Linked DNA regions of Homo sapiens. The protein of the gene in region 4 purifies or fractionates together with the protein of the main gene of each other region. This does not show direct contact. Each region holds a gene or a part of one and is shown on either strand. Other genes may lie near its edges. The genes, in order: SPNS1, CSE1L, TMEM33, USP19, NFE2L1, ACADSB and PDHA1.

Region 1 (3,500 bases), on a different chromosome or scaffold from region 4:
AGCTTTGTCTCCTCTTTGGTAATTTTCTTTTGGGAAACCAGTACCCCTACTTCTCTCAATCCACTTGGTTTAAATAGGATCCCAGGCTTGGCCAACAAGAGGACTGTTAACCACCCCAGCCTCGGTGACGGATTCCGCAGAGGGCACGTGATGCATGTTCATCTAGTCAGACGCTATCCTGGAAACACGGCCCCAGGGTCCAAGGTGCCAATGTTGCTAAATGGAAAGGTAATCATCTGGAGTTCTCACGTCCTTAAGAATGATGTTAACACAAAGGAAAGTAAAGCTCAGAAGAGAAGGGCAGTGTGGGAGCCCTGGATCCAGCTTTACCTGACTGAAGCTCACCTGGGACTTTCAGGAAGAAAGCCAAGACAGCCCCTTTAGGGGGCTTACGGTTTGTTTGTTTGTTTGTTTGTTTGTTTTCGAGACAGAGTCTCACTCTGTCACCCAGGCTGGAGTGCAGTGGTGCGATCTCGGCTCACTGCAACCTCCGCCTACTGGGTTCACGCCATTCTCCTGCCTCGGCCTCCTGAGTAGCTGGGACTACAGGCACCTGCCACCACGCCCAGCTAATTTTTTTTTGTATTTTTAGTAGAGACGGGATTTCACTGTGTTAGCCAGGGTGGTCTCAATCTCCTGACCTTGTGATCCACCCACCTTGGCCTCCCAAAGTGCTGGAATTACAGGTGTGAGCCACCGCACCCGGCCTCTAGGGGGCTTACAGTTTTACAATGGGCTTCTGTCACCTGCACGCAAGAATTCTGTCTAGCACATGGCTTCCAGGTGAGGGCAGCCAGTCTCCTGCAGGCTCAGCAGAATGAGAGCTGCCCCAAAAAAGGGGTATTTGGAGCCAGGCGCATGGCTCACACCCGTAAGCCCAGCACTTTAGGAGGCCAAGGCAAGAGGATTGCTTGAGGCCAGGAGTTCAAAACCAACCTGGGCAACATACAAAGACCCCATCTCTACAAAAAAAAAAAATTTTGTGTGTGCAATGGCACGATCTCTGCTCACTGCAACCTCTGCCTCCCGGGTTCAAGCGATTCTCCTGCCTCAGCCTCCCGAGTAGCTGAGATTACAGGCATGCGTCACCATGCCTGGCTAATTATGTATTTTTAGTAGAGACAGGGTTTCACCATGTTGGTCAAGCTGGCCTAGAACTCCTGACCTCAGGTGATCCGCCCACCTCAGCCTCCCAAAGTGCTGGGATTATAGGCGTGAGCCATCATGCCTGGCAAAATTTTTTTTTTTTTTTTTTGAGAAGGAGTCTCGCACTGTCGCCCAGGCTAGAGTGCAGTGGCACAATCTCAGCTTGCTGCAACCTCCGCCTCCTGGGTTCAAGTGATTCTCCTACCTCAGCCCCCCGAGTAGCTGGGATTACAGGCATGCACCACCACGCCCAGCTAATTTTTGTATTTTTAGTAGAGACAGGGTTTCACCATGTTGGCCAGGCTGGTCTTGAATTCCTGACCTCAAGTGATCCACCTGCCTCAGCCTCCCAAAATGCTGGGATACAGGTGTTAGCCACCACACCCAGCCTACAAAAAGAAAAAGTTTTTTTAATTAGCCAGGCATGGTGGCGGGCACCTATAGTCCCAGCTACTTGGGAGGCTGAGGTGGGAGGATCACTTGAGCTCAGGCGTTCCAGGCTACAGTGAGCTATGACTGCACCACTGCACTGCAGCCTGGGTGACACAACAAGACCCTGTCTCTTAAAAGAAAAATGGGCGGTGGGAAGGGGTCCAAAGGTAGGAAACAGGGATCAGTGAGAACGTCGCTGACCTACCCCCAGGCCAAGACCAGACTCACCCTCAGAGCCCAGTGCCAGTCTCCAGCCATATCCTTCACTTTGGAGCCTGCAATGTAGCCCAGACCACTGTGGGAGGGAGAGAGGGGAAAAAGGGGGGACAGCCAGTCAGTCCAGTCCCCCACACCAGGCCCTTCTGCCTTCCCCCAGGCCCCAGGCCCACTCACCTGCCCACCGGAATGGCAAAGTAGAAGATGCTGAGCATCCGGCTCCGCTGGTCGGCCACAAAGAGGTCGGCAATGAGAGTGGGCGCGATGGTGGAATAACTGGCCTCCCCGACCCCCACCAGGCCCCGGGTCAGGAGGAGCAGCCAGAAATGCTGGGGAGAGAGACCGGGGAGAGGTGGCACCCCAGCCTGCAACCAGCCTCCGGGCTACCTCACCAGCCCGCTCCCAAGAGGCAGCAGGGATGGCGGGAGATGCCTGGGTTTTAGAATCACACAGACCTGAGCTTGCATCCTGGCTCCACCACTTACTAGCTGCGATTTGGGGAAAATAACTTAACCTCTCTGAGCCTCAGTTTCCTCATCTGCAAAAGGAGGATAACAACAACTTTTCACAGAGCTATTGCAAGGACTAGACAATAAAAGGTCTAAATAAGACAACCCCTGCTTGCCTGGTAGGGGAAAGTTTTTTAATTTTTTTTTTTTAATGAATAAGTGACCTTAGATGGGAGTTTATGTGTCTACCAAAGGCACCTGAAGCTAAGGACGGGTACAGTCACCCAAGGAAAGTACGTAGGTCCTGGGGCTGAGGACAGAGTTCTGGGGTGGAGTGAGAACAGACAGAGGAGGCTTCAAAGGAACAAAGAAGCAACAGCCAGGGAGGCAGGAGGAAAGCCAGAAGAGTGTGGCATCGCAAAGGTAGGAGAGAGTTTCAGGAAGGAAGAGTGGGTCAACAGTGCCAGAGGCTCCTAGCATGAACAGGACCAGGAAGTTGGAGCTGTGTTTAGCAACTAGGAGGCCACTGTTAACTTTGGCAAGAGCAGGGTCCGTGGAGTGGTGGGAGCAGAAGTCAGTGGCAGCGCTCGAGGGGTGAGCAGGCGTGAGGAAGTGCAGGCAGAGTGATGGCATCTCCCCGGCTGCTCTTTTACCCACACTGGCACCACGCTCTAGGGGCCCTTCAGGAAGTCTGATCAGGAATGAGAGGAGGGAGAGAGGGCAGGCCAGGTAGGGTTTGGAGTGTTTAGGTATGGAGTAGAAGGAGTCAGTGGTCAGGGGAAGAGGGGATAATGGACAGAGAATGCTCTGGAAGAAAAGGGGAGGATGGGGTGGGGCAGGTTAACTCAGGCAAGGAGGGGTATAAAATGGCATGGACCAGGGAAACTGCAGGAGTCCCTGAGGCCCAGTCTGCCATAGCTCCAAGGAGCAGCAGCAGAGACTGACAGGGAGGGGGTGTGGGCAGAAACAGGAGCCAGCTTGGGGCCTCACCTCTCCGGGGATGAAGGATGACCCCAGTGTCACCAGGGACCAGAAGGCAATGCCCCCGCACATGAGATACTTCCGATTGTACCTGTCACCCAGGTAGCCAAACACAGGTGCCAACACCATGTAACTGGAGATGAACACTAGGGGGAAGCAGAGAGTCACAGCTCAGCCCAGGTACCCCTACCTCCCACTCCCACCCCAGCTGGAACCACTAAAGCACAGGAGATGCCTGCCTTCTCCTTACAGAATTCACAACACCCCCACATCCCA
Region 2 (3,069 bases), on a different chromosome or scaffold from region 4:
TTCTCTTGGCCCCCAAGAGAATAAGCTTTGTTAATTTTGCAGTCATATGGGAAGGAAGCTGTAACTTACAAAAATATTAAAATGAAGTACTTACCACAGTTTGGTATACTCAGTGTCCATCATTGGGGGACATTCTGTTAGTAATTTGGTTATGCCAACCGCACAGATCTTTTTCTCTACATTTCCAGATACCTTCTGAATTTCAGGAATAATAATTTTTTCCAAAACCATTCCAAACATTCTATTAAAGCAAAATAAATCAACTTAATATTAGATTATCACTATAATGAAATAGTAAAATGCTTAGATGTTAGTTACTTCTTATGAATATGATAAATTACTAAATAACAAGACTGCTGTTTTTGATCATCTGAAGAGACTGAAAGTCAAAACATAAAAAAACCCCATCACACCTCTACCCTGTAGCCAAATGCCATAATCTTTTTCTTTTCTTTTTTTTTTTGAGACGGAGTTTCGCTCTTGTTGCCCAGGCTGGAGTGGAACGGTGTGATCTCAGCTCACTACAACCTCCACCTCCTGGGTTCAAGCAATTTGCCTGCCTCAGCCCCCTGAGTAGGTGGGATTACAGGTGCCCACCACCACGCCCGGCAAATTTTTGTATTTTTAGTAGAGATGGGGTTTCATTGTGTTGGCCAGGCTGATCTCGAACTCCTGACCTCAGGTGATCCACCTGCCTCAGCCTCCCAAAGTGCTAGGATTACAGGCGTGAGCCACCATTCCTGGCCCTCTCTGCTTTTTTCTTTAAAAATTACACCTGGCCAGTCTCAAAAAAAAAAAAGAAAAAAAAAAAAAAAAGAGAGAGGAGCAAGGAGGGAAAAAAGGAATCATCCCACCACCCAGAAACAACTAGTTTTAACATTTTTGGGTTATAAGCTTCCCAACTGTCTTTGCTTACATACCTGCAGGTACATAAATGCTAATGGCTATTTAAAATAATTCGGCCAATCATTCTATGTTGTTGCAAACATGCTAGAAGTGAAGTTTTCCGTAATTCTAAATGATGCAAAATCCTCAGTTTATGCGTTAATAGAACCAATTCTTTGAAGTGGAAATATGGCTCAAAGGGTATGGCAATTCTAATGCTCTGGATAAAAAGTGCATACATTTTGCTCTCTAGAAAGATCAGGCTAATTCAGGCTCCCACTAGCAGTGCATGAGATTTCCTCAAAATCCCCTACTGCCGGAAGCCATGTTTTCTGGTCTCCTTTCCAGAGTAATTCATTTTTTAGTCAATGTAGAATTTTTGAGACATAACTGAGGTACAGGGATCTAACTGTCCCCGAAGAAATTTTCCCTAAGAGTTGTTCTTTATCTTATCGTTATAATTGTTTTATTCCCTACTAATGGGAAATGCCACCTAAATACATTCTTTGCATATATACCAGATAAGTCAAAAACAAAGTTAATTTATTGGTCCTAAGTATTTCTCATTTGAAAAATTCTGCTGTGTTTGCATTAGCAGCACATATACTAAAATTGGAACGATATGGATTAGCACGATTTTTTAAAAAAGGGGGAAGGAAAATTCTGGTTTTTTTTTTTAATTATACTTTAAGTTCTAGGGTACATGTGCACAACGTGCAGGTTTGTTACATATGTATACATGTGCCAAGTTGGTTTACTGCACCCATTAACTCGTCATTTACATTAGGTATTTCTGCTAATGCTATCCCTCCCTCTGCCCTCCCTTCCCCTGCCCCCCATCCCACGACAGGCCCCAGAGTGTGATGTTCCCCGCCCTGTGTCCAAGTGTTCTCATTGTTCAATTCCCACCTATGAGTGAGAACATGTGGTGTTTTCTGCTGTTAGTTTTAATAAGGCAGGCTCCTGGAGACAACACTGACCATTTAACATAATATAGAACACTGGCTGTGGAGAATGCCAGTGTGTAGAGTAGATGGTCCTCTAATCTAGAGGATTAGAACAATGATTCCAGGGTGTTTTTTCTTTTTTTGAGATGGAGTCTCACTATATTGCCCAGGCTGGTCTCAAACTCCTGAGCTAAATCCGCCCTCCTCAGCCTCTCAGAGTGTGGGATTACGGGCGTGAGCCACCATGCTGGGCCAGGATTACTTTTTCTTTACTCCCAATACCTAAGAATATTTTGAAAACCATAGACACTATCTCCATACCAAGAACCACATCATCATCTATAAGACAGAGATACTGATTTGTACTAAAAAAAAAGTCAAAACATTTTCTTCCTTTAAAAAATAATAAAAACAAACTTACTTTGGTTGTATACCATCAAATATTTCTTGTAGTGCTAGTGCCCCATATTTTATGCAATACAAATTAATAAAGACTAAAAAACCTGTTGAAAGAAGATGCAGAATATCAGCATAGAGAACTCACGCACTAAACTGGTAACTGATAAGTCTGCAAAATAAACCTATGCTTAATCATTAACATCCAAAGGCTGTGGCATCAATACCTGCCTTCTAGTAAATAGAAAACTTGTCTTTCTGTCATAGACCTTTACATGCTGTCTCTCTTTGATTTATATTTCCTTATAATATTCTCTCTACTGAAAAAATGTTTTGGTATCCAACCATAAACCAACCTCTGGAACACAATATGACTAACACTAACTTAATGTTTGGAGAACACAAACATCTTAAAATATTTTCTTTTTTCTTGTGAGAAGGTTTCACTCTATCACCTAGGCTGGGTGCAGGAGCGTGATCACAGCTCACGCAGCCTTAACTTCCCAGGGTCAAGTGATCCTCCCACCTCAGCCTCCTGAGTAGCTGGGGCTACAGGCACACACCACCATGCTTGGCTGTTTTGTAGAGACAGGGTCTTACCATGTTGCCCAGGCTGGTCGTTAACTCCTGGACTCAAGGAATACTCCCACTTTCACCTCCCAAAGTGCTGGGATTACAGATGAGAGCCACTGCACCAGGCCCTTACAATATTTTCTTTTTTTTTTTTGAGACAGGGTCTCACTCTGTCACCTAGGATGGAGTGCAGTGGGTGTAATCTTGGCTCACTGCAGCCTCAACCTCTGGGACTTAGGTGATGCTCCTACTTCAGCCTCCCAAGCAG
Region 3 (3,500 bases), on a different chromosome or scaffold from region 4:
ACAATTTTCACCTTATGTGCTGACTCATCCTGTATAAAGATGCAACTACTATTCTACCTTTTTGTGTCCTGTTTTACTTCTATGGTTAGAAAAAAAGCAACAAATCTACTTTTCTAAACAAGTATTTAATATGCTTGCACAGAAAGACAGGAATAATAATATTTGGAGTAATGCATAATTTTCCAAAACCTGCCCTTCCTGTATCTCCTGTCTTCGTGAGAGCACCATTACAACTCTTAGGCTTCCAAGCCAGAAACCTGTGGGTCTTTAATTTACTCTTTTCTCTCAAGCCCTAATATCCTATCTCCTAATACCTTTCATATTTGTCCCCTTTTCCTTTTACCACTGGATTAATTCAGGCTCTAGACTACTCTAATAGTCTCCAAATTGATATTTTTCTTCTCTTGCTGAGCTTGCAATCCATTTTCTGGAATATTTCTAAATCAGATTTCATCATGGGGGTTCCCAGCCTCTCTATGTTACAATCTTCAAAGGCTCTCCTTACCTCAAAATAAAATCCAAACCCTTTCATGATCTAGTCCTTTCTACCATCTACCTTTGTGGACACAGATATTTATCAATTCTCTATATACTTCCTGAGCTCAAGTATGCTAAGCACTTTTCAGGCACCCATGTGTCAGAACTCAGGCTCATTCTTTAAAAGACTTGGCTTATGTTCCCACCTCCTCAGTGAATTCTTATTTGTCTCTGTCTGTTCTCTATGCTTTCAGAGCACCTTCATCATCACACTGACTTACATAGCTGTCTAATTTATTCAGCAGTGAGTACCTCTGAAAGAAGATATTTTAATTCCACATAAGTTCATCAACATACAATCACTGTTTTAACCAATCAGTCAAATGAATAAAGCTAGAAGACATGAGGACTAATGAAGTCAATCGCTTTCACTAAAGTCACATAGTTCTTTTATTACTGGCTGCATCGCTGGCACAGACCAAGTCAGAGTTCCTTAACAGCACGGACAACAGAACTTTGAACAATGATAAAATTTTTGCATATCTGTGCTGAAGGACCAGTCAGAGAGTTCCTTAATAGCACTGACAACAGAACTTTGAGTAATGACAAAATTTTTGCATATGTGTGCTGACCCACAGTTGCCATCAGCAACACATGGCTTTTGAGTACCCACCTGAACTGTGCTCAAAAGGAACCAAGTTCTAAGTTTTATGAATTTTATTTAAAGGTCAAATGTGGTTGCTGTGCTGTACTGGACAGCACAGCTATAGACAATCTGCACTAGAGATCCAAAAACAACTGAAACCACCAACTTGAGAATAAATATCGTAGGTGAAAATGGTACAAATTGTGAATAGAGATGGTCTCAAAACCTTTAATTAAAAAAAGTGTAGTACTGAAAATGTAGTTTTATAGCCTGTTTATCAATATTTACAAGCTGAAATATTTTCCATTACCTTTCCACTGGTTTGGTTAAAATGGGTGCTTATAAGACAGCTTTGAAGATGTTTACCAGCACATATTTGTGTTATCTTGATTCACTGCTATCCTTTCCTTTTCAGTCCACTGAAAACTGAATTCTAGATGTACTAATATGATTTAAGGGTATGTGAAGAAAATGGGAATGGAGAAGGAGGCACAAAGAAGCACAGAAAAACAAATATGCTGATTAAAATAACAGATGTCAGGGCAAGAGAATATAAGATAATGTCTGAAATGAATATAGGGACCAGAAAGAAAAAAGGCTAAAACTCAAGAAATCAAGTAAAAATGAATGTTAATTTGCTACTAGAGACTCACTAAGAACGAATGTCTAAAATAAGTTCTATTTTAGAAAGTATTATAAAAAAGACATTGTCTAATAGAGCATAAAAACGCTCTGAACAGAAAATCAGATCATAGAATAATGAAAATGAACTAGTAAGAACATAACAGTCTAAGTACTTTTAAAATATTACTTCGCTTCACCCCCAGAAGGAGTTATTTCCTCTACCAATGAAGAAATCCAAATAAATAACCTGCCTAGTCACACAACTAGTTAATGATGGGCCAGCATTCAAATTCAAGTTCTTTTTACTGTACTTATGAAAATATACAGATTGCTGTAATGCACTCATTGGATTTCTAGCTGAATTCTACATTATTTTAAACTTAAAAATAGATTATCTTAATATTAGTATTTGAGTATCATTTTAGTTTTACTCCAATGCTTGAGATCAGAATGCATAATTTAGTGTATATTAATTTAAGCCTCCATTCCTGAAAACTACAGTAATTCCCTAAAATTTCTCTGCTTCCCCATTTTTCTGCTTCAAACTCTTCTGGCACAAGGGTATCAGAAGAATATTCTGACGATGTCAAAACCATCATTCCCATTCACCTAAAAGATAAATTCCAAACTTCTTACCCTAAAACTCAAGAAGTTTTATAATATAGCTCCAATATACCTTTCTAATCTTAGCTCCAGCAATTAGCCATTCAGAATCTCCATTAGAGTCAAAACAGCTCTACATAAAGTTCCTCAAATATGGCTTGTGCTTCTCGTCTCTCTTGCCCCACCTAAAATGCTTTTCCCTATTCAAAAGCTTTACTCCTCCCACAATCTCAATTTTGTGAAACCTTCCTGGGCTCATCTATCTTCTGGCCCAATGATCTCTCCCTTCTGTGGACTGCAGTACTGATATAATAAAGCAAACATATGGCATTCATTATCTATTGGCTTGTGAATTCTGTATCCTAACCATTGTTTATCTAATTGACACGTGTTTTGTTTCTTCAACTAGGAAAGTTGAGAGTGGAATCTATGTCTTATACATTTTAAAATTTGCTAAGTTTTAGCAGTGCTTTAGAGGTGGCGTAGATAACTGCAGTCTCAGTTTCTAAGAACAAATACAACCACTTCCTCACCAACCCCAGTACATTCTAAGGCCTAGAACTTAAATTTACAAAAACACTGCTTGCTTCTAAAGTCTAACACATTAGCTAAGTAACTCTTAAGAATTGCGAATACTATATATTCACAATACTCTCAACAAATAAAACATGCCTAAAATAATCATCAGCTTACCGACAATATGGGTTTCTTCGAGACGAATATCGAAGGGTAAGAAATCTATAGTATATAAAAGGTTGGAGCAAACTTCCTTGACCACTGAAATAAACAAATACAAGCGTGATAAATATACATTTCAATTCATGTGTATACTCTCAAAACTTAAAAGCAATTCAACTGGAGAATATGTGTATCTTCATTCATCAAATGGTCATAGTGAAATCTATCATGTCTAAATCCAAGTTATCCTTAAAAAAGGATATAAAAGAATGTACATGATTGGTAAAGAGTAAAATGTTGTTTAATTTTTTTATAAATGTATTCTTATCTGTATTACTTTTGAAATTTTTTAAAATACTAAATAAATCAGAAAATGTTAAATAATTCCGTAATTACTAATTGATGAAATCAAGTTGTAAAGCTTCATAAAATATGCAAATGAAAAGTGACTTATTTTATATATATAAAAAGA
Region 4 (3,274 bases):
GCAAGATCTGCCCCACAGCAGTTTTCCTCCTGCTCTGTTACCTGCAGGGATGCAGTTAGTGTTCAAGTTACAGCAAAGAAAAAGCTGAGGACAGGAGAGGAGGAGGAAGATCTCCCAGTACTTCTGTCCCCCAAGTCCTCCCTGACTTGTCAGCCCCAGGCTGCTCTGGTGAATGCACCTTTTACTCCACGCTGTCAGCTCCAGTGCTTCATATACTCCTCTGTCCCTTGGCTATATTGAGATCCTGACGATGCCTACCAAGCTGCCTCTTATGTAGGATCCAGAACCAGTGGGATGAAAGAGCAGCAGGTAGGCTCCAAAAAGCTGATAGCACTGGGGGCTTCATGACCCATAGGACATGAGCTGGGACCCCATCATCTCCCTTCAGACTAGGGCACTTTCAGGGTCTCTCATATATAAACACACATACACACACATACACACCGCAAATGATGGGGAGGGGAGGTGGCCCCAGCATGTGGTGGATCACAGTCACTAAGTCTACTTACTTATTATTTATTTTTAAAATATATTTAAACAGCAGCAGTCACTTCCAAAATGCAAAAAAAATTACAATTTTTAGAATAAAATTATAATGTTTATAATGCGGGTCAGAAGAATTGAAGGTACAACAGAATCAAATCACGCAGCACTGGAGGCGGCTGGAGAAGCCAAAGCCCACTGGTCAGGGGTCCAAGCTGACAAGAAGTCCCAACCTGAGAGGTCTCCACACCCAAATCATACCCCTCAGCTTCCCATTGACAGAGCCAGTGTCCTCTGGGTTAGAGAAGGAGAAGCGGCAAGGAGCTGGCCCTCTGTGTGGGTGTCCCAAACCCAGTCCCCCCCATCAGCCAGGGACCTGCTAATCCACCTCCTCCATGTTGCTGTAGGTGGGGGCTGGCCGATCCACAGGGGGGGCGAAGCGTTCAGGGGCTGTCCGCGTGGGGGCCACCTCGGGGGCCTGGCCAGGGCCTAGTCCCTGCAACAGAATACGAGGACAGGGGTTGGGGGCTGCCCAGCATGCCGCCTGGCATCCCGGGGGTGCTGGCTTGGAGCCCTGGCACCCAAGGGAGGGTCCCAAGGCAGGCGCAGACAGCAGCGGCGTTGAGACAGAGAGACGAGATTGGGCCTGAATAGTCTGGTTTTATTAACACTTTTAAGTACAGGAAGTAGCTTGGGCAGGGCCAAGCCTGAGGCCAAGGGTCAGAGCAGCAGGATGAATGGACAGACAGCCAGATGGATACACACCCTAGGATACTCTGCCCCTGCAGGGGCCACAACCTCCCCACCCTCTCCCACCAGATGCATAAGCTGAGGCCCAAAGCCCAGAGGTGTTCCCCACAACAAAGGCAGGCATGGCCTGGGGCAGGCAGGTAGGCCAGCTCACAGCAGCTGCCTGCAGGCGAGCTCATCTCCAGCGACTCTGGGATACCAGAGGATAGAACACGTTGAGCACGAGGGCCACCAAAGCCGCCACGGTGCCCAGGACAAAGTACCGGAGGCAGCCCTCATCTGGTGTGGTAGGGCCACGTGGTAGGGGGCCCACCCAGTCTTGGGGCCCCCAGGGACCCAGGGGCCCAGACCCCTCAGGCACCGGCTCCTCCTCAGCCTCCAGCTCCTGCCAAATCCGGGAAGCCTAGGGTATGTGGAAACGGCCATCAGCACCCCGGGGGTGGGGAGGACCCAGTGTCCCTGAGACCCTTAGCCATGACAGTCCCACCTGGGGTGACTGGGGCTAACACCCTGCATTCTAGATCAAACAGCAAGGAGGAAGGCAGGCAGCCAACCTCAGGGCTGTCCAGAGTAAGAGCACAAGGGTAAGAGAATCTTGACAGCATTTTGGCCTACCCTAAACAGCTCTCAATCCACATGCAGCTCCGCATGGAGGTGGGAGGGGAGTTATCTGGTTAGTATTTCAGTCCAGGCCTCCCCAAAGGACACCGATTCATAGAGAACAGGACTGCCAATCCCAGAGCAATCTCCTTGCTCCTTCCCACCCATACCCAGATCCTGACCAGTCTTCTGCAAGGATTTCTCTAAGCTTGACAGAGAAGGCTCAAGAGAGGATGGAGCCAGAAAGGAGACGGCCAGTCCAGAAAAGAGATGTGCCTACGCCCACTAACTGGGCCTATGGCACACCATGTCACTAAAGAGAAGATCCTGAAGGCTCAGCAAAGACAGATGCTTACCTCAAAGAGTATAACAGCCACCAGAGGCCATGGCCAGCCCAAATAGGCCTTGTCTTGAGTGCACACTAGAACTCAGGGACATCACAAGTGAGGGTGTGTGGGCCAGCATGTGGGGAATGTGCAGAGGAAATCTAGGAGAGTGTCAGGTATAGTTCATTCACAGCATAGTGCCCAGTGAGGTTCAGAGCAGTTGCCTGACCTGTGCCAAGTAGGTGCCAATGTGCTTGCCAGTGGCAGCATGTTAGTGTACTTGTATGTTTGTTAGTGTCCCCAAGGCATGGGGATGCCTCTGGCTAAAGCTTTGATGTTAAGAGAACTCTGCAATTCTCATGAATCCCAAGGCTCAATGGGCCTGTGGCTGGAGGAGAGGAAGCTATATCCCCCAACCCGGCCCCAGTCTGTGAACTGTCCCCCAGTATTCTGTAAAGCCTCCCACATGCCTCACCTGGCTGGCAGCAGCCTCAGCTGCAGGGCCTAGGTCTGGGTGGTGCTCAGAGTGACCTGCCCTGGGGGGCCTCTCCACAGGAGAGTTCCGCCGGCGGTAGAAGAGTACATAGGCATAACGCGTCACAACCTGGCTCTCGTCTACCGTTGTCACTGTGCTGTCATCAAACAAGCGCCAGCCTACAGCAGGGTGGGAAGAGTGTGAACAAAGTCTGCACCACCACCCCTACCACCTATCCTGCTGGCTGTGTGTGCCCTCACCCACGTCACTGCGCTGACTGCTACGATCATTGGGCAGGCGTGCACAGGCAGTGTAGTGGCCACCAATCATGCCTCCATAGTGGTTGATGACAGCATATAGATCGTAGCTGGGCAGCTGCTCCTCTTTCTGACCAATGCAGAACTTGCTCAGGTCCAGGTTCCTGCAGGTCAGGTCCAGTCAGGGAGGGGTGAGACAGGCAACAGGCGCTCAGGATGCCCATCCTGGTCCTCACACCCCACCCACAGTTACCAAGGTCCACTGCTTACCTAACAGGGAACTCCACCAAGTCATTGATCTTGTCACGCCAGATAAAACTACGAAAGGAGAAGCGCTTGAGCTGCACGATGAGAACATTTGGCAGGCGCCATAGCAACAGCTG
Region 5 (3,500 bases), on a different chromosome or scaffold from region 4:
TCAGTGGGTCTCCAGGAGGGGCACTGTACAGGATTTCACTTGCTGATGTGTTCACTTCCATGGCCTGGGAGGGGAGAAGAGCACCACTGTTCACTAGGAACTGACTCCCTCCCCTGGGGCTCACACACTGCAGGCACCCAACAGAGGCACAGCTGCATGGGTGTAAAGGCAAAATACTATAAACCAAAGCCCACAGTGTCAGCTCCTGACCCAGCTTCGTCCACCAGGCCTGGCAGAGATGGGTTCTTCCATGTAGGCTCCACCCTAATATAGGACTGATCAGCTTTTCCTCATGTTTGGCCAGACTCCCCCATCTTGGAGGGAGAGGAAGAAAACACTACCTTGTTACTGCAAAATCAGCACAGTGAAAAGAACACCCAGACTTAAGTCAGAAAACCTAGCTGCACCACTTGCTGTGTGACGATGGGCACATCATTTAACCTCTGAGCTTCAATTTCCTCACCTTTGAGATAAAGGCTGACTAGATGACTGTGAGGGCCAAGTGAGCGAACGATGGCTGTGAAGCACCATGTGAATGTCAGCTATTATTAACGCACAACCTTGGAAGCATTCAGCCAAGTGCCTATCTGCCTGAAGGAAAGGAAGAAGGCACACCCAGGAGGCAGGCCCTGATTTGGAAGGCTGAGTCCTGAGTTTTATTTAACCCAAACCCTACCTGTCTCCAGCTCCCATTGCCCCAAGGACACACCTGGACAGGTTTCTTCTCATTGTCCCCACTTCTCTATGATTCAGGGAAAGTATTACACTTTCTCTCCTTGGAGATGGAAAAGCAACTGAGTGCTAAGACAATCTGTGCAAAATCCAATAGGTTTGTGCCCGGTTCCGACAATCCTACCTGCATTTCCATGATGGACATGAGATCTTGCCACTGCTGTTCCAAATCAAATGGTGACTCTGTCCCGGTCAGAAGAGGAGACAAGAGGTTGTTTTGAAGAGCAGGGGGCTCACTCTCACTAGGCACTGCTTCTGTTATGCTGGAAATGTCTGCTGGAAACTAGGGCAAAACACAGAGGCTTTAACAAGGGGGAAGGAAAAACCTTGTGCTTTCCTCCCAGAGATTACCACCTGGACCTGTTTCTGTTCTTCCTTCCTCTGCATTTACCCCCAGCAGCCAGAATAAGGCCAGAACCAACAGCTGGCCCCTCAGCCATGGAGGGACACACCAGGTACAGGCTGCCCTGCTCACTTGGTGGACTCTCACTGGAGTCCTGCTCACCTCAGCATTCTCCCCAAAGGGGCAGGTGGCTTCCAGCAGCCTAAGGCACTCTTCCAGGGACAGGGCCGTCTGGTCCTCCCCACTAGGCACCTGTGGCAACAGGAACTGTAAGTCTGATTGACCTGGGCCTTGGCTGCCTGGGGCTGAAGCTTCTTTCCCAGAATGGCTGAAGCCCTGCAGTCTCCCTCCCATTCCCAGGCTAATGGCTGGCCCCGAGTCCCAAACTCCCAGAAACAACAGAAGAGAGTGAAAGAGTCCTGAAGCAAGCAGGAAGATGCTACATGCTCTGCCTCCCTTGCACTGTCTGTTGCCACGGCCTGGCCATTCTGCATCTGCTGCTTTCCACTCCCCCCTTCCAAGGCTCAGCCACTGTGACTTACAGACCCCAACCCAAAACAGAAATTCAGGTCCACCCCACACACCACCTGTCTTCTCTAAAGGAAGTTTCTGGAAGAACTCCAGCCTGGTTTGTGTCAGGGTAGTAGGGACAAGAAGAGAGCCCAGTGAGCAGGGGCGATGGTACCTGTGCAGGGAAGCTCTCCCCAGTCTCTCCATCCACTAGCAGGTTCCGTGCCAGAGCTTCCGCGCCCTCGCCTGCCCAGGTGTCCTGCTCGCCTCCATCTCGCAGCTCCTTCTCCACATCCTGCTCCTTCTGGCGGTGACTATAGTCAAAAACCTCACGCCCAGCCCCCAGATCAATATCCTGTCGCCAAAGGATGTCAATCAGATCTATGTCCTGAAAGACAGATCACATGACTTTAGCTCTAAGATCCCAAGGTCCCTTCCTTGTCCTGCCCCTCAGAGTTCCCTCCTAGTGTCACCCCAGTTAGTCCTGGGTGGGGCCCCTCCCAGCTCTTCACCTGCCAGCCTTTACCCCCTGGTCCCTGCACCAGCAAGTGTTCATTCATCTACTTCCAGACACTATCCCCTTCCCACAAAAAAAAAGAGCCACTAGCAAAACCATTAGTGTGACTATCACCATAAGGGTGCAAAGGATTAGGATCTGGACCAAGACACACCCAGACAAAAGGCAGGGCCGCCTCCCCCCTACATAAGAAAGAAGGGGAACATCAGGAGACACCTCTAGCTTTGGGGATTGGACCCCTTAAAACTTGGTTTGGAGGAAGCTGGCCATGGCAAGCAAGAGCGAATTGTCATGCAGAATTACTTAGCAGTGGCCAGGCTTGCATCAGCCTGTGGTACCATTTCATTTGCATAAAGGGGTGGGGTGGGCTAGAGAGGAAAATCCCTGCATTTCCAACCACCTGATGCAACCAATGACAACGCCATGCTGTCTCCAGCCCTTCCTATAGCCATTCCCCATTCCCCAGCTGGCAGCAAGAGTAAGGCTGAACACCCACAACTCCTCAAGCCCAGGCTCACCTCAAGACTCATCCCCGCCAGAATTCCCTCTCAGCTGATCCTAGCTGCTGCCTCCATTCCAGGGAGGCTCAGGCAGTCAGATGATCCCCAGGGGTGCACCCCACCCCCTGCTCGGGCCAGCCTCACTGTGTCCCCTACACCAGTGCTCTCATTCCCTCACCATACCCCAGGACTCACCAAATCCCCATCAGTCAACCCCCTCAAGGACATAAACCCCATCACTGCTCAGCTACAACTGCCACCTTGGGCACCAAAAATGCTTCCCTCCCGCTCTACCCTGGTGGCTCGTGAACAGTTGCTGCACCAACTGCCACCCCCACTAACAGCATATAACCCCAATAAATAGAGCTATTTGGGCTTCCTATACATGGCACCCCCCTGTAGTCGAGCCCTCCCTACAAGCCTGAAGAAACCCTAAAGTGTTGCCTTCCATCCAGGGGTTAAAATGCAGACATACACTTTCCAGAAAGCAATTTCCTTAGATCAGACCCTCCTCCCTACCTCTAAGTCGGTATTCTTCTCCCATTAACCCCCCCTGACCCTAAGACCTCCCAGACGTACTACTTTAGTCTCCCCACATACACCAACCTGAACAGAAGCCCTGGACCCAGGAGCAGAGGCGGGCTGGGCCACCCGGTGACCAGCCAGCAAAGAGTTAAGGGGCCGGCTGCCTTTGGCATGGCCCCCACCACTGTGAGAGCTGCGGTCCAGGCGGGTCATGGTCTGCGAGATGAGCCCCAGGGCAGCCGGTGCCGGGAAGCCGGACAGGGGGCTGCAAGGAGCTCTTGGCTTTCAGGGAGCACACCAGGCTGGAAGGGTGGCCCCTTGCTAGCTCCGAGGGGCCTGAGGAGGGTGCCCCGCCCGTGCTGCTGCCTGGGCG
Region 6 (3,500 bases), on a different chromosome or scaffold from region 4:
TGATTTTGATTTCCTAAGCCAAATTGTTCATACCTGCTTGATATGGTTTGGCTGTGTCCCCACCCAAATCTCATCTTGAATTGTAGCTCCCATAATCCCCATGTGTCATGGGAGGGACCCAGTGGGAGGTAACTGAATCATGGGGGCGGGTTGTTCCTGTGTTGTTCTCGTGATAGTGAATAAGTCTCACAAGATCTGATCGTTTTATAAAGGGCAGTTCCCCTGCACTTCTCTCTTGCCTGCTGCTATGTAAGACGTGCCTTTGCTCCTCCCTCACCTTCCTCACCACAATTGTGGGGCCTCGTCAGCCACGTGGAACTGCGAATCCATTAAATCTCTTTTTCTTTATAAATTACCCAGTCTTGGGTATGCCTTTATTAGCAGTGTACCAATGGATTAGATTTTAAGTTGATCCCAATTTTATATCCCCAAGCCAAAACTTCTATACCAGAATCTGTCCAACCTCTGCTTGCTTTCTCCATAAATAATAGCTTCTGTTCTAGGTATTCTCCAAAACTGCTAAAAACGCAACCTTTCCCATCTACCAGTCTCTGATTCTTCATTCTAGTCTTTAGGAGTTCCTAACAATGCCTTGCCCTTTTAAGAATTATAGTGATTCCCTCAAAAGAGGGTTAAATAAGCCAAGACAAGACACAAGGCAAGGGAATCAACACAAAGGAAATGGGTTTGCCTGTAGTGTGACCTTGGCCAAGTCAACAATTTCTCTTTCCCAAATTACCAGTGGACAAAAATGAAACCAGACACTCACTTCTATTTTCAAAGAAATTTTAAAAGATAGGATTATTATGGAGCTAAAGTATTTTTTAATCATGTGTAAACCAAAAATAAGATTCTAAGGCCCCCCAAACCAGCTGAACAGACTTCCTCCCTAGCCAGGGGTCTTAAAATTTCACCTGAGAGACTGTTTCAGGCCATGATGGGAAGTGGGGGTCGAACATACCTCATTATACCTCACCAGCATGAACATCAACACAGAACTTTAGGCCTAATAAGAAGCATTTCAATCCATTCTCTCTGAAGTCGGCTACCTGGAGGCTTCATCTGCATGATTAAACTTTGGTCTCTACAACTTCTTATCACAACCCAGACATTCCTTTCTATTCACCCCAGGTTTTTAGCCCAACTCAACCAATTGTCAACCAGAAAATGTTTAAATTTACCTATAGCCTGGAAGCCACCCCCGACTTTCATTATGGGAGTTATTAAAAAATTATTTTAGGCCTATAGAGAGGAAAAGGTGTCCTTGGGAAGTTTTTGTTTCTTTTAAAGCAGCTCCAGGAACGTTTCTTGTCTAGCAGGAAAGCCCGGCTCTTCAAGCTGGGACAGCAAGCTTAGACATGCAAATGCCGGCCATTAGAAACTGTGTCCACCCGGTGAGGTGGCTCACACCTGTAATCCCAGCACTTAGGGAGGCCTAGGTGGATGGATCACGTGAGGTCAGGAGTTCCAGACCAGCCTGACCAAGATGGTAAAATCCTGTCTCTACTAAAAATACAAAAATTAGCCGGGCATGGTGGTAGGTGCCTATAATCCCAGCTGCTTGGGAGGCTGAGGCAGGAGAATCACTTGAACCCGGGAAGAGGAGGTTGCAGTGAGCTGAGATCACGCATTGCACTCCAGCCTAGGCAACAAGAATGAAACTCTGTCTCAAAAAAATAAATAAATAAATATAAGGTAAAGGAGTTGGGCTTGCCTTTATTGTGACCTTAGCCAAGTCAACAATTTCTCTTTCCCAAATTACCAGTGGACAAAAATGAAACAAGACACTCACTTCTATTTTCAAAGAAATTTTAAAAGATAGGACTATTATGGAGTTTAAATTTTTTTTTAATCACATAATTACTTGGGTCCAACAACTTAACAGGCATTGGGAATTTCTTCAACTCACCCTCTTTTTCAGGGAAGATAGTCAGAAGAAACACTTAAATAGATGCCAAAAGACCAGAGTTCCATATCAGGGGTTGCATATTCAACACTGGCTGGGGACAGGGGGTTACCAAATTGAGTGAAGGGAGCATGAACCACGTTCACAACCTCCTCAGTATGCATTCCACCAGCTCCATTAGCTGGCCCTGCCATGTCTTGCACTTCTCAAAACACACCGCTTCTGCTCTCACAGGTTTGTTTTTTTTATGTGACACAAATTCTGTATGTTTGCTTTTAAATATCCTTTTCCTTCTTTTGCTCCAATTCTGAATAAAACACATATGTCACAGAATTTCCTCTGATATCCTACTAAGTCTCCTTTTGCTTCTTTGCTTCTCAACATTTACCCAGGATGGTCTGAACTGTACCCCAAAGGCTGACTTGTCCACTCCTGTTTCTTCACTATCCTTCCGATGCCCCATACCCATTTATGGTTTTGGCTAGCATTTATAGCTCTTAAAGCAAACTAAATATTGCCTGAGAAGGACTCCGTATGTCTATATTTGAGTCCTTGTGGATGAACTGTAACCTAGCTTAATAGGTAGACAAGATTGAAAGCCTAACTTAGGAGTATGCGCCTGTAACAGTAGCTGCGTCTTGGGCAATCCCAGCAGCCATCCTTCAACCACTCATGGACTGCTGAGTGTTCTAACTGTGTTCAAATAAGACAATTGCAAATCTGTAACCAATCCAGCCACTGTGTACCTCACTTCCGATTTGTCACTTCCCTTCATTTGTCTATAAATTTGTTATGACCACAAGGCATCCCTGGAGTCTCTCCAAATCTGCTGTGGTTCTGGGGGCTGCCCAATTTGCTGCTCAATTAAACTCCTTTAAATTTAATTCAGATGAAGTTTTCCTTTTACCATAGCTTTAGCACTGGTCCACTTTCTAGACCCATTTCTGACCAGCTTCTAAGACACTTTCAGTTGTAAGTTTTATTAATACCTAAAACGTGTCTAAAACAGAATTACCTTTCTTCTGTCACCCTAAATTACTTTTTCTCCAGATGTCCCAATCTTTGCCTATCACTAAGCTATTTCATTTAGAAAATGTGTAGTCCATCTAATTCCTCCATTTCAAGATAATTCCCACATCTTCTCAAGTCTTCTTTTATTAACATGTCTTCCTTTCTGATCATCGGTGCTATCACCCTCATTGAGGGCCTTGTTACTCTAAAAGTGGACTTGTGAAATGGTCTAAGTGGGATGTGGCTTCAGAGTCTCACGTGATGAGTTCCTTTTGTGAGCTGCTGACTGTTTTATCTTGTAAACTCCTTTGCAAACAGCACCTTAAAATCTCAATGGCTGCTATTGAAATCTTTCAACAAAAATCTTTGAAACTGTAGATCAATTTCTATAGCCAACAAACTGAGTATGGCAAATAGTTTTAGAGAGAAAGTTCCCTACCAGGTTATAAGGAGAAAGGCCACCTTTCCCCTCCTTCATGGAGTACACTGTTACACAGGTCTACATCCGTGGTTCTCAGTCCAGTAATTTTGCCCCCACGGGACATTTGGCCATGGATGGAGACATTTTGGGTTGTCATAGCTC
Region 7 (3,500 bases), on a different chromosome or scaffold from region 4:
GTGTTGTTTTTTTTTAAACCTAGGTTTTATTTTTCCTTTTGAAATGGAGTCTTGCTCAGCCGCCCAGGCTGGAGCAGTGGTGTAATCTCAGCTCACTGCAACCTCCACCCCCGGGTTCAAGCAATTCTCCTGCCTCAGCCTCCCGAGTAGCTGGGAATATAGTTACGTGCCACCATGCCCAACCATTTTTTGTATTTTTAGTAGAGACGGGGTTTCACCATCTTGTCCAGGATGGTCTCGATCTGTGGACCTCGTGATCTGCCCAAAGTGCTGGGATTACAGGCGTGAGCCACCACGCCCGGCCAGGTTTTATTTTTTAACTCTTGAATGCAGAAATGTTAGTGCTTACTGGTTAAAATAGAACATAGTATTTATATATTACTTTAGTGCTTTATTGAAAATATCGGAGGTGGGATAAACAGAGAGATAGGGTTGGAAGGAGAGTTTGTAGCAGCAGTGTAATTTCTGTGTCAGATTCTGGCCAGGAGTGAAAATGCAGGGCATTAATTAGTATCTCCCCTCATGGATTTCTGTGGTTCCTTTCTCGGTTGTCCTTAATGTTAGGTGCCCCTGGGCGCTGGGATTGCTCTAGCCTGTAAGTATAATGGAAAAGATGAGGTCTGCCTGACTTTATATGGCGATGGTGCTGCTAACCAGGTAATTATGTCTCTTAACTTCCCAAAAACAGTCTTATTTTCAAAGTCTTTAATATTTACAGTTGAATTTCTAAAGAAGTAGCATATTGCTTATTAGGTGAAATAGCAAGTCCTATGGCTAGCTCAAATTTGGTTGACTTATGGCCAGATTAGAGATTGACCTCTTAGCGTTGTTTCACAAGAGACTTACGGGGGCACATTCCTGTGAAGGAGCTCACCTTTGCTCTACATCAGTGCTTGGCAAAGGCCCTGTGGTAAAGGACCTCCCCACAACCTATTGCAAAACAATACAGACCCATTCTCTTGGATGTCCGGGCTGGCAGTGTCAAATTCGGATAATAGCGTCTGAGTCCTAACTCAGTTTCTATGCTTCTCTTGTTACCGAGTAATCCCCAGTCTGTGGCCAGCACTCTGTGAAGCCCTGTTCTAGAGGCTGATTCTTAGGTGCTGGTTCACTCTGGCTATCCAGTGGGCCTGATAGATTTCATATTGATCTTTTTTCCAGTGTGTTCCTTACTGCTAGCATGGCCCCAAAGAAACAAGTAGTAGTTGGTTTGTCACCTTCCTTAGTTGCAAGAGTATGATGCCTGCTACTTCTCCTCCACCACCCACCCCGCTTTCCCTCACCACCCAAAGCTCGGTTTTAGAAGAGGAGGCTTTCTGTGCTTTATGAAAGCTTTCTGTGCCAGGCAGAGCAGCAGCTGTTAGAGATGATGAAGCCTGGAGAAAGAAGCCAAATGAAACCCCTTTTCGTAACTACTTCCAGGGCCAGATATTCGAAGCTTACAACATGGCAGCTTTGTGGAAATTACCTTGTATTTTCATCTGTGAGAATAATCGCTATGGAATGGGAACGTCTGTTGAGAGAGCGGCAGCCAGCACTGATTACTACAAGAGAGGCGATTTCATTCCTGGGCTGAGAGTAAGGACACCTGTGGTGGGGCCGGGGCCAAGGCCAAGGCCAAGGGTATGTCCTTGTGCAGACCCTTGACGATCTTAGAAACATTGGAGAGTTTCATTCTCATACAGGAGCAGGTCATGTGAAAGTAAAATGGTTTGGGGCAGTTGGATTCATGCTTCGCCCCTCCCCTGTTTATTACCAGGTGGATGGAATGGATATCCTGTGCGTCCGAGAGGCAACAAGGTTTGCTGCTGCCTATTGTAGATCTGGGAAGGTAAGGCTCTAAAGCCCTCTGGGCTAGTGACATTTATCTCTGGAAGTTCAAAGACTGCCTCCCATGTGCCTGCTGAAGCTGTTAGTGGGTACCTGCTAATTGAGGTGCATGAGATGGAAGCAGAGTGAAGGGAGCAGGGCTCCTTTGGGTAGCTTGGTCTTGGTAGCTCACCTGCTGGGAAGCCTACGTTTCTCTCATTTGGGGGAAGTCCGTTCTGGTGCTTCCTCTGCTTTGGCCTGTCTTCATGACAACTGATTTGCCTTTTCCTTAGGTTAATTCTGTCCCTCCTCCCCACCCCCCATTAATCATGAGTCCCTTGAAGGAACAGATTGGGGATCCCCACAGTGTCCAGCATAGAATGTCATGTATACAATAGGCATTTAATATGTGTGTCTTATACAAATTAAACAGTATGGTAGAAGCTCGTAATCTTAGTCTTGCTCAGTCCTAAGGATCTTTCCCTTTTCAGTGTATGGCAGTGAGGGAGATGGTAAGAGGGAGACTGGCCTAAAGAGGTTTCACTTCCTTTGGCACTAGTATAGGCTTAGGAGGTTTGGGTGTTCTCCCTAAATCAGTGTTCTACAGCCCAGAAACAAGGTTTCTGAAGTTGGCACTTCAGCGCCATACCATGTACGTTTAGGCAGTGATGTGAATCAGATGTGGCCAGCAATGATGGAAATGTCACAAAGTGGAGAGACAGGGAAGTGAGGGTGGGAATGTAGTAACATTAAATAAGAGCTAATGAGTAGAATGAACTAGAGCAGGACCAAGACTACAGCTTGGGTACAATGGGCTGAGCAGTCTATGTCAGGACCCTAAGGCTGGGAGTGCCAGGCCCTGAGTGATGGGTATTGACGCCACCTCTCCCAATTCCTGAAAAGAATACATGGGGGCCAGCCCTGGCTGGAGACAAGGGGAGTTGTAGAATGTAGTTGTAGAATGTGTGACTTTCCCAAACAGATAACCTTCACAATTCTGAGTTAGGTGTTATTGTTTTGCCCATTTTGCAGACAAGGAAACTGAGCCATAGAGCAGTTAAAGGTACACAGCTACTCTGTCTTGGAGCCAGCTCCCCACTCGCCCATTTTAACTGCTGCACCAAACCAACCAAGGATCCTCAATGTTTCTCCACCCCAGTGTTCAGAGCCGTCTCCTGGAAGTGGGCTAGTGTAGAATGAGCGAGCCCAACTGTCCAGACTCCCAGCAGAGCCTTGGGGTTTGGGTAGCAGAGGTTGTTGGTGCCTGCCAACTTTGTTACACACTAGCAAGGTCTGTGAAGTAGGAGTGGCTGCCAGCCCCACAACACACCATGAGAAAGGAGCATGAGATGGAAATCTGTCTAGCCAATAGCAGGAGGCTCTAGAACATGCTCAGAGCCTTTTTCTTTTTTCACAGGGTCTCGCGCAGTGGCACACTCACAGCTCACTGCACCCTTGACCTTCCAGAATCAGGTGATCCTCCCAAGTAGCTGGGACTACAGGCGCACGCCACCATGCCTGGCTAATTTTTGTATTTTTTGATAGAGATGGGGTTTTGCCATGTTGTCCAGGCTAGTCTCGAACTCCTGGGCGCAAGTGCTCTGCCCACCTCAGCTTCCCAAAGTGCTGGGATTACAGGCATGAGCCACCATGCCTGGCCTTCAAAGCCTTTTTGATTCAAAACAAGCTGT

What was found.
Region 1: the proteins of USP19 (region 4) and SPNS1 purify together in Homo sapiens (co-immunoprecipitation; one large-scale study listed by IntAct). This does not show direct contact.
Region 2: the proteins of USP19 (region 4) and CSE1L purify together in Homo sapiens (affinity purification with mass spectrometry; one large-scale study listed by BioGRID and IntAct). This does not show direct contact.
Region 3: the proteins of USP19 (region 4) and TMEM33 purify together in Homo sapiens (affinity purification with mass spectrometry; one large-scale study listed by BioGRID and IntAct). This does not show direct contact.
Region 5: the proteins of USP19 (region 4) and NFE2L1 purify together in Homo sapiens (affinity purification with western blotting; one study listed by BioGRID). This does not show direct contact.
Region 6: the proteins of USP19 (region 4) and ACADSB purify together in Homo sapiens (affinity purification with mass spectrometry; one large-scale study listed by BioGRID and IntAct). This does not show direct contact.
Region 7: the proteins of USP19 (region 4) and PDHA1 purify together in Homo sapiens (affinity purification with mass spectrometry; one large-scale study listed by BioGRID and IntAct). This does not show direct contact.

The regions. Positions count from the first base shown.
Region 1 is NC_000016.10:28,977,778-28,981,277, reverse strand, and holds part of SPNS1 (protein spinster homolog 1), read right to left. Parts: intron 3,371-3,500; coding exon 3,234-3,370; intron 2,124-3,233; coding exon 1,972-2,123; intron 1,874-1,971; coding exon 1,807-1,873; intron 1-1,806. UniProt on the Homo sapiens protein: Plays a critical role in the phospholipid salvage pathway from lysosomes to the cytosol.
Region 2 is NC_000020.11:49,091,312-49,094,380, reverse strand, and holds part of CSE1L (exportin-2), read right to left. Parts: intron 2,336-3,069; coding exon 2,254-2,335; intron 242-2,253; coding exon 95-241; intron 1-94. UniProt on the Homo sapiens protein: Export receptor for importin-alpha. Mediates importin-alpha re-export from the nucleus to the cytoplasm after import substrates (cargos) have been released into the nucleoplasm.
Region 3 is NC_000004.12:41,948,929-41,952,428, reverse strand, and holds part of TMEM33 (transmembrane protein 33), read right to left. Parts: intron 3,128-3,500; coding exon 3,044-3,127; intron 1-3,043. UniProt on the Homo sapiens protein: Acts as a regulator of the tubular endoplasmic reticulum (ER) network by modulating intracellular calcium homeostasis. Mechanistically, stimulates PKD2 calcium-dependent activity. Suppresses the RTN3/4-induced formation of the ER tubules.
Region 4 is NC_000003.12:49,107,550-49,110,823, forward strand, and holds the end of USP19 (ubiquitin carboxyl-terminal hydrolase 19), read right to left. Parts: coding exon 3,162-3,274; intron 3,056-3,161; coding exon 2,895-3,055; intron 2,814-2,894; coding exon 2,635-2,813; intron 1,637-2,634; coding exon of another isoform or gene 1,409-1,636; exon of another isoform or gene 1,124-1,408; intron 980-1,123; coding exon 863-979; 3' UTR 501-862; downstream 1-500. UniProt on the Homo sapiens protein: Deubiquitinating enzyme that regulates the degradation of various proteins by removing ubiquitin moieties, thereby preventing their proteasomal degradation. Stabilizes RNF123, which promotes CDKN1B degradation and contributes to cell proliferation.
Region 5 is NC_000017.11:48,054,859-48,058,358, reverse strand, and holds part of NFE2L1 (endoplasmic reticulum membrane sensor NFE2L1), read right to left. Parts: intron 1,974-3,500; coding exon 1,761-1,973; intron 1,328-1,760; coding exon 1,238-1,327; intron 1,016-1,237; coding exon 857-1,015; intron 65-856; coding exon 1-64.
Region 6 is NC_000010.11:123,015,506-123,019,005, reverse strand, and holds part of ACADSB (short/branched chain specific acyl-CoA dehydrogenase, mitochondrial isoform 1 precursor), read right to left. Parts: intron 1-3,500. UniProt on the Homo sapiens protein: Short and branched chain specific acyl-CoA dehydrogenase that catalyzes the removal of one hydrogen from C-2 and C-3 of the fatty acyl-CoA thioester, resulting in the formation of trans-2-enoyl-CoA.
Region 7 is NC_000023.11:19,353,927-19,357,426, forward strand, and holds part of PDHA1 (pyruvate dehydrogenase E1 component subunit alpha, somatic form, mitochondrial isoform 1 precursor), read left to right. Parts: intron 1-564; coding exon 565-657; intron 658-1,422; coding exon 1,423-1,578; intron 1,579-1,759; coding exon 1,760-1,831; intron 1,832-3,500. UniProt on the Homo sapiens protein: The pyruvate dehydrogenase complex catalyzes the overall conversion of pyruvate to acetyl-CoA and CO(2), and thereby links the glycolytic pathway to the tricarboxylic cycle.